Homo sapiens: one gene and its partners. The protein of the gene in region 1 purifies or fractionates together with the protein of each later gene. This does not show direct contact. Each region holds a gene or a part of one and is shown on either strand. Other genes may lie near its edges.

The links. Proteins that work in one complex are often made in the same cells at the same time.
Region 2: the proteins of PIMREG (region 1) and TDRD7 purify together in Homo sapiens (affinity purification with mass spectrometry; 3 studies listed by BioGRID and IntAct, with this or other methods). This does not show direct contact.
Region 3: the proteins of PIMREG (region 1) and PICALM purify together in Homo sapiens (affinity purification with mass spectrometry; 2 studies listed by BioGRID and IntAct, with this or other methods). This does not show direct contact.
Region 4: the proteins of PIMREG (region 1) and ZYG11B purify together in Homo sapiens (affinity purification with mass spectrometry; one large-scale study listed by BioGRID and IntAct). This does not show direct contact.

The regions. Positions count from the first base shown.
Region 1 is NC_000017.11:6,443,283-6,447,254, reverse strand, and holds the start of PIMREG (protein PIMREG), read right to left. Parts: upstream 2,801-3,972; 5' UTR 2,767-2,800; intron 2,180-2,766; 5' UTR 2,145-2,179; coding exon 1,851-2,144; intron 1,845-1,850; exon of another isoform or gene 1,224-1,844; coding exon of another isoform or gene 1,068-1,223; intron 1-1,067. UniProt on the Homo sapiens protein: During mitosis, may play a role in the control of metaphase-to-anaphase transition.
Region 2 is NC_000009.12:97,481,596-97,485,095, reverse strand, and holds part of TDRD7 (tudor domain-containing protein 7), read right to left. Parts: intron 2,248-3,500; coding exon 1,745-2,247; intron 1-1,744. UniProt on the Homo sapiens protein: Component of specific cytoplasmic RNA granules involved in post-transcriptional regulation of specific genes: probably acts by binding to specific mRNAs and regulating their translation.
Region 3 is NC_000011.10:85,996,085-85,999,584, forward strand, and holds part of PICALM (phosphatidylinositol-binding clathrin assembly protein), read right to left. Parts: intron 846-3,500; coding exon 742-845; intron 1-741. UniProt on the Homo sapiens protein: Cytoplasmic adapter protein that plays a critical role in clathrin-mediated endocytosis which is important in processes such as internalization of cell receptors, synaptic transmission or removal of apoptotic cells.
Region 4 is NC_000001.11:52,732,953-52,736,452, reverse strand, and holds part of ZYG11B (protein zyg-11 homolog B), read right to left. Parts: intron 1-3,500. UniProt on the Homo sapiens protein: Serves as substrate adapter subunit in the E3 ubiquitin ligase complex ZYG11B-CUL2-Elongin BC. Acts to target substrates bearing N-terminal degrons for proteasomal degradation with the first four residues of substrates being the key recognition elements.

The DNA.
Region 1 (3,972 bases):
CTGTAATCCCAGCTACTTGGGTGGCTGAGGCATGAGAGTCGCTTGAACCCGGGAGGCGGAGGTTGCAGTGAGCCGAGATCGCACCATGGCACTCCAGCCTGGGCGACAGAGTGAGACCCTGTCTCGAAAACAAACAAACAACAACAAAAAAAAAAACCAAGGGTGAGCTACCTTGGTCTCCAGACCATACAAGCAACCCCTACACTCAGCAAGTGTCCTGTAAATACAGGCTATTGTTAGTCTCCAGGGTGAAGGATGTGAATGACTCCTCATGGAATGAGTCCACGGCTGGGACCCAGCTCAGAGCTCTTGGATATGACAGCAGCAGTCAGCCGCAGGAGGACCCCCCTGGTGCCTGGAGCCTGTTTGTCTAAGTCCAAACTCTCTTTCCAGACAGACGGTGACCCCAGGACTGAAGGAGAGGGCCCCAAAAGAACAGGCCACCCCGCCCAGCACCCCCTGTACACCAAGAGAGCACCTGTCTTCTTGCCTCGGGTCTCACTCACTCTATCCACCCTCCACAGTGGTCCATAGTGATCCTTCTAAAGGGCAGTTCTGACCGTGACACTCAACTGCTCAAAACTCTTCTGTGGCTTCTTGTTGCCCATAGGACCAAGCCCCAACTCTTGGGCCTTTCACACCAGCCGGGTGACAGCCGTGAAGGCTCTTCTTCATCAGCTAGACTGTCTTTGCCTTGACAAGCCAGAGCCCAGTGTTTGGAGCGAAGCCCAAGTTAAATTTGATGAGTTATGTGACCTTGGACAAATTCATTTCATTTCTCTGATCCCTGAGGGTGGTGAAAACAATCAAAAAGTGCTTCCAAATAAGGACTAACATTTGGCTCAGAGAGCTCTCTGCAGAGGGTCCAGAAAGAGCCACCCACTTTCTGGAGAATTCTTTCATCTTCAGAATTCCCAATGAGACACCGAGGAGAAGCCTCTGCAGCCCCCAATCCTCTCCCTGGAGGTCTGTTCATCCTAATGGCTTCTGTCCTTTCTAAGTGACACGTCTACACCTCCAGCTCTGGGTTTAAAGATGCATCCCTTGAAGGGTCCACAGACACTTACATCCAATATAAGGACGTCTTCCTGACAGCAGCTCTCATTTGACAGCAAATCCCCTCTAACTGGACCTTCTCGGCAGCTCCTGAAGTTTATCCCCTGCAAGTCCAAACCCTTAGTCTCCATCAGGAGCATCTCTGCCTCTATTCCCTTCTCCATCATGTAGCTAAAGGGCAAATTCTAATATGCTAATTAGACCAGACTTTCCACTGTTTAGAATCTTCCGGACTCCTGATCATTCCTGGGAGAGTTCTAAGCTCCTTCATATCCTTTCCCCCTGCTCTACCTTGCTCTCTGTCATCTGTTCATACCCAGACTACAATTCTGGCTCTCCTCAGGGATACACAGCTGAGTGGGCAGTACACCTTGCTTTCCCTCAGCTCTAGGCCTGGACTTGCACTATTTCCCCTACCCTAAATACCCCTTGACCTTTGCTTCCCTGGGTGAACTCTGGAATCACCTCCTCTGGGAAGCCTTCACCGACTAAGCTTGCATTTGGTGAGCCTCACTATTGGTCACTTGCTTTGCAATTTCCTATCACGTACAGCTCTTATCACCTGGTATTGTGAGCATCTGTTTCCTCCAAGACATGCTTTCATTCACTCATTCAACTATTTGTTGAGCACCTATATGTGCCAGGAACTATCTGGGGTGGTGGGGAAACAGCAGTGAACTAACCAACGTCCCTGTTTTCATGAAGTCTATATTCTTGAGGCTCTTTGAGGGCAGGAACTGCCTGGCACCAAGGAAACACTCCATAAAAAAGATGATTAGTGTTGTCAGTATTACCTGGGACACGGCACCCAAAGCACTCTTAGCTGAGCGAGCTGCAGCCTGGAGGCCCTGCTGACCTGGCTCTGGGGTTTCCAGGCGTTTCCAGGAGGGCCCTGCGCGGAGGTTGAGGTTGACGGCTCTCAGGGGCAGCCTCCTTTGGAACTGTCTGCACAGGGACCCCAGGGCCCCTACAGAGGTCTCCTGATGGCTGACCACAGGCTGCAGCTCCTTGCTGTCCTCCAGCTGCTCCTGGTGCTGGAGAGATCTCCGGCGCACGGAGGTCCCCATGTTCTGCCACCGAGAAGCCATCTGCCTGGCCAAGAGTCTTCTCTGTCCACTAGACCCTGGGGAGGAGGGCGAAAGGCAGATCAGCAAGGCATTCCCCATACCCATTCCCAGGCCCCACAGAGACCCTGGACACAGGGGAAGAGACGGGATGCAGCGGGGTGGCGGGGGCGGGCGAGTTGGTAAGTGTGGGTGCAGGAAGGAGGATGCTTCCTGGAAGAGGGGCCTCGGGTCAGCAGCATTTCTGATGTCCCGCCCTTCAAGTTTCCAAAACAGCTGTCTTTTCATCCCAACCTCCTTCCTCTCTCTGGCTCAGGCGAGGAGGGGAGGCAGGGTCAAGACACGCCGTAGCCGAGCTTCAGCGCTGGGCCCAGGACACGATCACCATCTTCTTCACCAGCTCGCCCAGACCAAACGCGCACCCGCCCAGACCCCGGCCTTCCCACCAGACGCCCCGATTTCGATCCGACTTCTTGTGGTACCCAGACGACCCCACAGGCCGTGCGTGTCCGAACCTGATGCCCTCCCCTGTGAACAGAACCTGATGCCCTCCCCTCCGAACAAAAAAATTGTTTTGAGTCCAGATCGCGCCATTGCACTCCAGCCTGGGCAACAAGGGCGAAACTTGTGCCCAGCCCGCACTCACCCGACACCACTAAGGCCGAGCACAGCCGCAGCACAGCTGCTCCTCGCCCACCGCAGCCGATTTGAAACTCTGCGCGGCTCCGCCCCCGGCCCCGTCCTCACAGCTGATTGGTTCCGTCCCCGCCCCCGCCACCGCCACCGCCCCGGGGATCCGATTGGCTCCCTCTCTCGCGGCTGCAAATGCTGCGCTTGGATTGGCCCGGCCGTGCCCATTCATCGCTCCGGCCCCCGCCCCGCCGCCAGCCTCGTGGCTCCGGGCTTTGTATCCTGCGTCCCGCTCGCGCCACTGCCCTTGCTAGCCCAGCCCCCGCGCATCGCACACCGGGTCCCCTCCCTGGAGCGCGCACAGGGTTCAGGCTGCTCTGACCCATGGGGTGGAGGCGGAGGTCCTGGGACCTAGGCCTCCTGGCTCAGGCCCCAGGCCCCAGGCCCGGCAGCGGGCAGAGACCCCTCTCATCCTGCCAAGGGGTCTGGCTTTTCCTTCTTGCTCAGTGGTTTTGTCAGAAGGAGCCAGGGACTGGCAGTGCAGAGCCCTGGGTTCCCAGAGACGTTTTCTTTCAAATTTCCCTCCTGACCCTCCCTTCCTGTGACAAGACACTGTCCCTCTCTGAGTTCCCCATACTCGCCATCCACGCTCCGCCCTCCCTAGAAAACGCGTCCCGGAAGCGGGGATAGACCAGAGTACCGGTCTGCCCTCCACCCGTCTACACCGGCTCCCCGCCCCCGCCTTGCCCCACGCATCCCTCCCTCTCTCCAGCGGAATGCCTGCCTCTCTTCTCCTTAGCATCCAAACAAATGCAGCCATTATAAAGCTCTCTCCAGCTCATCTTTCTCCTTTCGGTGACCTCAGAGCAGTGCTGCCCACTCCCCCGGCTGGTTTCTTTGTTACTTCTCCGCACAAGAGCCTGAGATGATGGCTTCTTGAGACTCTGTCTTCAGCCCTCTCCGTTTCTGGGTGGTCTCACCCACTCCTTTGGCCTCAGTGATTTCCAAGGAAAGGATGATGATAATGATTAACGTGTATATGGCACTTAGTATGCACAGGTACCGGTGTTGCAGTTTATTAACTTACTTGATCCTCTGCTATGGTTTGAATGTGTCCCTCAAATTTCACATGTTGGAAATGTAATGCCCAAATTCATATATCGGTGGCATTTTTTGTTTGTTTTTGAGACGGAATTTCACTCTTGTTGCCCAGGCTGGAGTG
Region 2 (3,500 bases), on another chromosome or scaffold:
AGAAGTTCTAAACATTTTATACTGATTCAGTTCATGAAGTTTTAAAAAAATCAGATTATCTGTTTTTATATACAAAACATCCCTTGATTATCTGGGACAAATTAACTAAAGTCCAAGAGTCCTGGGGCAGAATGGTTCAAAGCCATGGAGGGCAGAGTGGGGAGTGCAAGGGCTCATATTGGAGCTCTCCAGTTGATGTGTTCTCCTTCCTACCCAACCCCTTTACTCCAAGGAGGATCTCCTCACCTTTAATCATCAATCTGCCCCCCAGAACATTAGTTTGGTTTTTAACTGTGATTGAATTATCTTACAAAGAGCTCTGATTGAGGCAAACCTACACAAGCTGAATTAAACCTATTTATGCTTGTGGTTATAAATAACACAACAGTAGAAATGGTTTTTTAGAGAAGAAAAGCTTATGACATACAAATTGTATGTTTTTCGAAATGAGAGCTTTTATACGCTTCACTGAGAGTTAAAAATTAGTTTTTTTCTCCCATGAAAATGACAAAACTTTATACATGCCTATGTTTGCTATCTTAAAGAATTAAAACATTTCATATAAAAAATAAGCAGTTTGACCTTTTAAACTGAGTTTTGGGGTGTGTGTGTGTGTGTGTGTGTGTTGGGGAGGGGTGACTGTTCTTTGTGTTCAGCATTGATAAATAAGCTTGTTCATTTCTCCTAAGCAAGCTGGCAAAGGAACAGGATGGGCATTGTGCCATTTCCCAGGGCTTCATGGCCTGAGTGGAAAGTGGACAGTGGGGTGTCTGGGCTTCACTTGGATGAAACCAGCACATCCTGCAGGGCTTTGGGGAGGAGGGTGTGGACCCAAATGTGAAAATATTAGAAAAAACACTGAAGCGCTAAAGAAATGTAAGAGAAAGTATGTTCTCACAGCCCCAAGGCCAAAGAGTAGTGAAATAAGCATTGTTGCTCCTTATGAAAGATGGCACAGATGCCAGGATGCAGCTGACAACATAAAGCAAGAGTCTTGCCATCTTCCAACAAGTGACTTTTCTTCTAGGAATCTATCCCGTAAATAAATAATCAGAAATGCAAAGATTTACATTCACTATTATTTATAATAGTGAAAAATACAGGAGAGAAAACCTTACATAACAAAATAGAATGGTAAGTAAATTATGATTTCATTGGGAAAAAGGAATTCTGTATATCATGATTAAAATAGCCATTATAAAGGTTCCTGAAGAAATTTTATCACATGGAAAAATGTTCATGACATAATGTTAGGTGAAAAAAGCAGGTACAAAATTATACATACTAATAATATACCAACTATATAAATATGCACATATAAAATTAGAGGAAATACATAAGTAGTTTAACAAGTGTTATGTGTGGGTGGTTGATTTTAATTTCTTATGCTTTTTTTATATTTTAAAATTTTTCCATAATATTTTTATTTTTAAAATAAAAAGTCATTAAATGAAAAAATCTGGTTATTTTCTGAATAAAAATATTTTTCTAATAGAAAAATAGAAAAAATATTTAAACATTCATTTTAGTTATATAATTGGGTTTTAACAGGAATATGGCCAATAGATTTTTTGATAAGTGACATCATTTTAAATACTAGAAAATCGGAAAAATTACTGTGTTTGTTTCACATTCAAAATTCCCATTAGTACAGTTCGAAGTCCCCCCGCCAAGATTAAGACTCTGGCATCATTTTACACATTTTTCTTAGGAGTAGAATAAAATGCTTTGTCCAAGGACCTACTTATTTTCCACTTTTGCAGCATACACTTGGTCTTTCTCCACTGCTATGTGGCGCTCTTCAGACACGCTGTAATATAGAATCATCTCTTCCATCAGAACTTCCAACTTATGTATCTCCTGCCAAGGCTGGATGACGAAGTAGCCTGGGTGACAGGCCACAGGCACATACACATCCATGTGTTCCCCTGGCTTTGATAAGTGGACAGGAGGTGGCAGTTCCTCTGTGGAGAAAGCGCTCGTATGGTCCACCATGGACTTTTTGATGACATCTGTGAGGTTCTTTCTGAAATTCTCTCCAGTGTTGCCCGACATGGGCATGTTGCCATTTTTGCTGTTGGGAGAGTCAGCTCCACTGGATATGGCACTCAAAAACACATCCTTCTGATGCTTCCACAAGTCTGCATTTGTAATCTGGCGATTAATACTGCGATGAGGGTCAGGGAAGTTCTTAGGGGTAAATAAATAAACATGTGCGATCCCTCTGGTTTCATCCACTTTTGTAACCTTTGGAAAACACAAAAAATGATATAAGAAATACAAGTTCACATTAAATTTTGAGAGGCAGTTATAGTAACCTTAATCATTAAAACACAGTATTTTGCCAAAACCCTTGCTAAAATCCATTTTATTTAAGGAAAAATAAATTATCACAGCTTGGCAATGAATGGGCTCTGAAGTCAAAATAGTCTAGGGAACAGTGCAGCCTTATGGAAATAAAAAATTTACTAATCTTTAAAAAGTCTGAGAAAACTTTATAACTTGCTAAGGTCATTATCATTGACAGAAAGGATTCTATATATCATGATTAAAATAGTTTAAATTAATGATATTTCGAAACACTTAAAGTAGAAATGATAAGTATGATGAACCCTGATATACTCATCACCCAGCATCAATAATAAAAAACAATCACAATGATGGCAAAATGATTTATGAGCGTTCTGCTTAAGGCTGGTGTGTCCTCAAGACTGGGAAGGGAAGGAAAAAGCTCTGACAACCACCATATCTGTAAGCACCCCTCTTTCAAATTCCTTGTCTGGTCCTAGTATATGTCCTCACCCCTTTCCCCATCGCCAATTACATGGGAGGAGAGGGACCTGGGGAGAAAAAGAGGAAGCAAGCTCCACAGAACGGGTCAAAATTAGTTTTACACTTTTTGTCCAGGAGACCTCTGACTACCTAACCATCTTTGCTCTTTCGGCCAGAGGGGTGTTTGTATGGAAATATCATACATTAATAATTGGGACTGTACTGCTGTGTGTCCCAAGGAGCTAGGTGACTGTTGGCTATTCTCATCAGCAACTCTGGTTTATCTTAGGAATGATAAAAATAAGATACTTCCAGCCACATTTATCTTTTACCAAATAGGGCTAGAAATGAAAGGCAGGAACACAGGTCTGCGGAGAGGGAGATAACAGCAAGGCAACCCATCTACAGTGATTTACTTAAAATTTCTTTTTTTTCCCAACAAGATGCCTCTATTACATTCATCCTCTGAAGTACTAATTAAATACTGACTGCAAATTCATTTTGAAATTTATAATACAGAAGTACAGTTTTAAAAATTAACAAAAAGTACTTTTATTGAGTAACCATCCAATATTCTGGCTTTAGGAGCTTAAAGAGTAGCTGAGAAAACAGTATTATCATGTGACAACTGAAGAATATGGAATAGTATATAATTAAGCATGTAATTGTACACTATAAACCCCAGAGGAATACAAAGACAGAAAAATCACTGCTAGCTAGAATAATTT
Region 3 (3,500 bases), on another chromosome or scaffold:
AGCTTACTTTCTAGGATATAGTTCCTTCAAAAAAATAATTTAAAATGTTCTTAAATTCAAATCATTAAAATAAAATGAAAAAAAGCTTTGTTTATATACTATAAAAACTCATTAGAATAATTAACTTATCTTGCTATGAGAGATAAGCCTATCACTTCAGAACTGCTTAAGGGCAGCAAACATTCTTATTGGTACAAGGGGAAAATTCTTTGACTAGCAAAATCTTTCAGGTCTTAATTAAAAAAACATTTAAAACATTTATGTCTTGACCATAAAGCTGGTCGAGACAATTATGGTCACAACATGTTCCCTGTGTGATAATACCATCTGAGTTTTATTAGAACTATATCATATACTTAACACAAAGATAAGTTATTCCCCAAAAGTTAAAAAAAAAAAATTCTACACCAAAATCGAAATAACCACCATGCATTTTCTGGTTATGGAATAAAAATTCAACATTAAAAGAATAATCTCATAGTTAAAAACACACTTGGTCCTTCCTCTTACATTTAGTTTTATCTTTATTAAATGTCATTTCATAATTTAATTGAACATAAATTCCTAAATTATTTATAATAAATGAACATACCTTCAAGGGATAAAATTGCTTCATTGCCATTTTAATACTTATCAAGTTCTCATGTATCAAGTGTAATAAAAAACTACAAATAAGTAAACACCACAGAATGAGGAGGAGAGATGCATGTAACATCTAAAATAGAATTCATCAATGCTTACCTCCCCATGTACTTGCTACCTGAGAAGCAGTTGACATAGGATGTACAGATGGGTGAAAAGTTGGCTGCTGCAAATCAAGCAGATCATTGGGCAGCTTTGATGTGCTAGAAAGATATTTTGGAAACGTGTTTTATTTACCAGAAAAACTTTGCTACTTTAGTGTCACCTTCTCCACCCACCACAGATAAAAACATTAAAAACAAGGGAGAAAAGTCTCATTAATATAAATCTCAAAAGAGGAACAGTTTCTTCATATGACAGCATATTTCTAAGGAGGCTTGGAAAAATAATCTAATATCATATCTTAAGTTTATATAAGATTCAAAGAACAGTAGCTCTTCTGAAAAGGATGAATGTCTTCCCCTAGAAAAAACTAATTTCCCTATTAAAATGAACCTAAACAACAAGATTCTAAAATACAAAATATCACAGCAATTTTAATATTTTTAATAAAACTCTTTTCTTACTTTTAATATTCACAGAACTTGAATCACATTTGCAATACACTACACAGTAAAATACTCATTAACCTCACTTCTAGTGCCTCAGTGTCCAAACTATGTATCAATGATACAGGGAAAAAATTTTACATGCATTTATGAATAGAGCCACCCCATCACACAACACACTATTTACATGATATATTTCTTTCTTCTTTTTTTTGAGACAGAGTCTCGCTCTGTCGCCCAGGATGGAGTGCAGCGGCGTGATCTTGGCTCACTGTAACCTCTGCCTCCCAGGTTCAAATGATTCTCCTGCCTTAGCCTCCCAAGCAGCTGGGACTACAGGTGCGCAGCACCGCATCCGGCTAATTTTTGTATTTTTAATAGAGACAGGGTTTCACCATGTTGGCCAGCCTGGTCTCAAACTCTTGACCTCAGGTGATACGCCTGCCTCGGCCTCCCAGAGTGCTGGGATTACAGGCGTGAGCCACTGTGCTCAGCCTCTTTTTTTGTTGTTGTTTTGCTTTTTTTGAGACAAGAGTCTCACTCTGTTGTCCAGGCTGGAGTGCAGTGATGTGATCTTGGCTCAATGCAACCTCCACCTCCTGGGTTCCAGTGACTGGCATGCCTTAGCCTCCCAAGAAGCTGGGATTAAAGGTGCATGCCACCATGCTTGGCTAATTTTTGTCCTTTAGTAGAGACAGGGTTTCACCACACTGCCCAGGCTGGCCTCGAACTCCTGACCTCAGATGATCCACCCACCTGAGCCTCCCAAAGTGCTGGGATTACAGGCGGGAGGCACCATGCCTGGCTTACATGATATATTTCTACCTCAAGACTTCTATGTAATTTTTTTTATTTGAGACAGAGTCTCGCTCCGTCGCCCAGGCTGGAGTGCAGTGGAGCGATCCTGGCTCACTGCAAGCTCCGCCTCCCGGGTTCATGCCATTCTTCTACCTCAGCCTGCCAAGTAGCTGGGACTACAGGCGCCTGCCACCACGCCCGGCTAATTTTTTATATTTTTAGTAGAGATGGGCTTTCACCGTGTTAGCCAGGATGGTCTCGATCTCCTGACCTCATGATGCGCCCACCTCAGCCTCCCAAAATGCTGGGATTACAGGCATGAGCCACCATGCCCGGCCGACTTCTATGTGATTTTAATGAACAACTCAAAACATGACCCCAGAGTGTCTAAGAATTCAAACACAGTACAGATAATTTTTTTAAGAGAAGGGGTCTGGAGGCTGGGTGTAGTGGCTCATGCCTGTAATCCCAGCACTTTGGGAGGCTGAGGCGTGCGGACTGCTTGAGTTCAAAAGTTCAAGATCAGCTTGGGCAAAATGGCGAAAAAATACGAAAAATAGTTGGGCATTGCGGAGTGCGCCTGTAGTCCCAGCTACTCGGGAAGCTAAGGCAGAGGGAATGCTTGAGCCCAGGAGGTTGAGGCTGCAGTGAGCCATGGCTGTGCCACTGCACTCCAGCCTGGGTGACAGAGTAAGTCACTGTCTCAAAAGAGAGAGAGAGATTGAGAGAGAAACAGACAAACAGACCAAGAGATGTTGCCCAGGCTAGCTTGTACGGCTGGGCTCAGGCCTTCCTCCTGCCTCAACCTCCTGAGTAGCTGGGACAACAGGCACACGCCACCACACCCAGCTCCTAATTTTTAACTTATATATTCTCCAAAATAGAATGTTTTTCTTTTTAAATGGATATACAATAATTGTACATATTTATGGGATACATATGATATTGTGATACATGCATACCATGTAATTATCAGGACATCTATCACACCTCAAACATTCATCATTTCTCTGTGTTGAGAACATTCTAAATCTTCTAGCTACTTTGATATAGGTAATACAATTGTTTTTAATTAGTAATTCTACTGTGCTATCAAACACTAGAACTTATTCCTTCTAACTGTATTTTTATAAAAAAGTTTTGAAGACATGTCTTTTAGATGTACAATAGTTGTGTAGATAGTAGATATAAACGCATTTAGTGCTTTGGGGAACATATAGAATATACAATAATAATTCTGTAAATGGGCTGTAAGATTTGCCCTTAATTACTATTAAAAAGGTGAAAATTTTTAGTATGTGACATAAAACATAGTGAAATTAGTTCTTTATCCAATAATTTGTTTCAGCCTCGAACAATGAACATTCTTTTCACTTCTTTCTCCTAGGACAGACTTCTTTTCAAGATCTCCATGTTGAGAACTTGCCCCTTAATGGGGTCAATGTTACTTAACTGGGGATTAAAGAAGGTAGCATACATGAGCAAACAAATCATAAAGCTGAAAGAAAAAAA
Region 4 (3,500 bases), on another chromosome or scaffold:
AAAAAGAAAAAAATTAGCTGGGCATGGTAGTGCATGCCTGTGATACTCAGGAGGCTGAGGTGGGAGAATCACTTGATCCCGGGAGGCAGAGGTTCTAGTGAGCTGAGATCACGCCACTGCACTTCAGCTTGGGTGACAGAGAGAAACTCTGTCTCAATAAATAAATAAATAAATAAAACACTTTCATTCAACAACTATTTGCTGAGTCCCTACTATGTGCTAGACATCACCAAGTACACAGGATACAGATCTCTGTAGATTCACTGCTGTCTATATGAATGGCTGTTAGCTGAATTGTGCAGTACAATCTGTATAGCACAGCAGCCCTGTAAGACCACTGTAAACTAGCAGGGCCGAAACTGCAGGCTCCACAAGGATCTTAAGGAGTTCACAAATTCCCATGCATATCAAGTACACTCTGTACACAATAATATCTTGATATTTTTAATGCATAATAGATGTTAGACTTAACAGAGTATCATTTTAAAATATTACTGAATTCCTACTGGACCTGCTTTTTGCTTTTTCTCCCCCACAATTAATATGTTCTGAAAGTATGTTACTGTCCTGTCTCTCAAGGTTTTCAGTGTTAAAAAGGTATCTTCACAGGGTCTATTGTCTCAGACAATAGGGAGGAATTTAAAACTTCTGAGTAGGAAGACCAAGGCAGGCAGATCACTTGAGGTCAGGAGTTCGAGACCAGCCTAGCCAACATAGTGAAACCCCATCTCTTCTAAAAAATACAAAAATTAGCCGGGCATGGCAGTGGGCGCCTGTAGTTCCAGCTATTCAGAAGGCTGAGGCAGGAGAATCACTTGAACTCGGGAGGCGGAGGCTGCAGTGAGCCGAGATCGCGCCACTGCACTCCAGTCTGGGTGGCAGAGAGAGACTCTGTCTCAAAATAAAAAAAATTCTGAGTAGGAAGAGTGGCACGCCTCCAGTCTTTTCTCATTCCACCCTTGCCTAGTTACTATACAATTTCTTTTTCTTTCATTTATGAGCCTGAAAAATCTTAATCACAATTACTTAGTGTGAGAATAATACTTGTAGCATTAAGTTTGTCAAAGAAATACTTAAGTGCTGAAGACATATTGTTCTTCAAAGTGCTTTAGAAAAGTGATTTGGGCCGGGCACGGTGGCTCATGCCTGTAATCCCAGCACTCTGGGAGGCCGAGGCAGGCGGATCACCAGAGGTTGGGAGTTCGATACCAGCCTGACCAACATGGAGAAACCCCTCTCTACTAAAAATACAAAATTAGCCAGGCATGGTGGCACATGCCTGTAATCCCAGCTACTAGGGAGGCTAAGGCAGGAGAACCGCTTGAACCTGGGAGGCGGAGGCTGCGGTGAGCCGAGATCGCGCCATTGCACTCCAGCCTGGGCAACGAGAGAAACTCCGTCTCAAAAAAAAAAAAAGTGATTTGGACCGGGCGCAGTGGCTCATACCTGTAATCCCAAAACTTTGGGAAGCCAAGGCGGGCGGATCACCTGAGGTCAGGAGTTCAAGACAAGCCTGACCAACATGGAGAAACCCTGTCTCTACCAAAAATACAAAAATTAGCTGAGCACGGTGGCACATGCCTGTAATCCCAGCTACTCGGGGGGCTGAGGCAGGAAAATCGTTTGAACCCGGGAGGTGGACGTTGTGTTGAGCCCAGATTGCACCATTGCACTCCAACCTGGGCAACAAGAGCGAAACTCCATCTCAAAATAAAAGAAAAAGAAAAAGAAAATTGGTCAGAGAGTGTGTACAATTTTGTGGTTCTTGAACTCATACTGCCAAATCACTTTTTTTTTTTTTGGAGCCAGAGTTTCACTCTTGTTGCCCAGGCTGGAGTGCAATGGCGCGATCTCGGCTCACTGCAACCTCCGCCTCCCAGGTTCAAGTGGTTCTCCTGCCTCAGCCTTCTGAGTAGCTGGTATCACAGGCATGCGCTACCACACCCAGCTAATTTTTTATTTTTTATTTTTTTTTGAGATGGCAACAGATTGAGACTCTTTAAAAAAAAAAACCTTTTATTCCATTGTTAATAATGACTATTTCTACCGCTTATTAAATATACTTTAAGAGCTAGTTTTAGGACCTATGAAAAAAGCAGTGTTTTAGCCAGCATTTCCCAATTCATCTACAGGCTCACATCATTACATTCAATATTGATGTCTGCCGGGCTCATGGCTTGACATCCCAGCACTTTGATGGGCTGAGGCAGTAGGATCACTTGAGCCCAGGAGTTTGAGACCAGCCTGGCAACATAATCTAGACCCTACCTCTACAAAAATAAAAAAAATTAGCTGGGCATGCTGGCATATGCCTGTGGTCCCAGCAACTCAGGAGGATGAAGCAAGAGATCATCTAAGCCCAGGAGTTCATGGTTATAGTGAGCTATGATTACGCCCCTGCACTCCAGCCTGGGCCACAGAGCAAGACCCTGTCACTATGAAAAAACAAAACAAAAAAAAATTATGTCTATTTCAATTTGTATATTTTTGAATATTTAATAATTATCTAAAATTTTCTCCTTTATAAAAATAGAATAGTTTGAGAGTATCCAACAATTTATCTACTGAATGTGTGTCAATTAGTGGGAATTAGGAGAATGGCTCATGATAAAGTCATTGCATTGTTATAACTTAATCTGAACACTGAATGCAGTAGCTTTTCTTTGTATAACAAACTGTTAAAGACAAGAAATATAAGTACATTGATGATGAAATACAAGAATGAGTACATTTATCTGATCATGATTCTTAAATGATACATCAAGATATCTCTGATTGATTGATTGATTGATCTTACAGTGTCTTGCTCTGTTGCCCAGCCTGGAGTGCAGTGGTGTGAACCCTGCTCACTGCAGCTTCAACCTCCTAGGCTCAAGCAATCCTCCCACCTCAGCATCCTGTGTAGCTGAGACCCCAGATGTGCGCTAATTTTTTCATTCTGTGTAGAGATAGGGTCTCACTATCTTGTCCAGGCTGGTCTCGAACTCCTGGGCTCAAGCAATCCACCCACCTTTGTCTCCCAAAGTGTTGGGATTATAGATGTGGATTACAGGCGTGAGCCACCATGCCCAGCCTCACAAAAACTATACAAAAAATATACTCTTGGAAATCATTAAGCATGACCTCTAGAACAAACACATTTAATAAAAAAGAATAAAAACTAACATTCTATTTAAGAGATATTACTATTATTTTGAAATCAGGGAACCTATAAAAGGTTTGATATACAAATTTTACCACAGAGTAAAATCTGATAAAACTTTCTCAGTAACTTAAGATAATTTTACGTACAGAAATTCAATGCAAGATACTCTGAAAATGACTAGAATGATGATCCTACAGAGAACTAGCTGAGGCTTGTTTGTAAATTTTACTGAAATAGGAAATAATTCTGTCTTTGTATACAATTGCTTCCACGCATGAGCTTTATCTAAGGAAAATAACCTCCTATGTTGGGTTAATAATTTTTTTTTTTTGAGATGGAGTTTCACTCTTTTTGC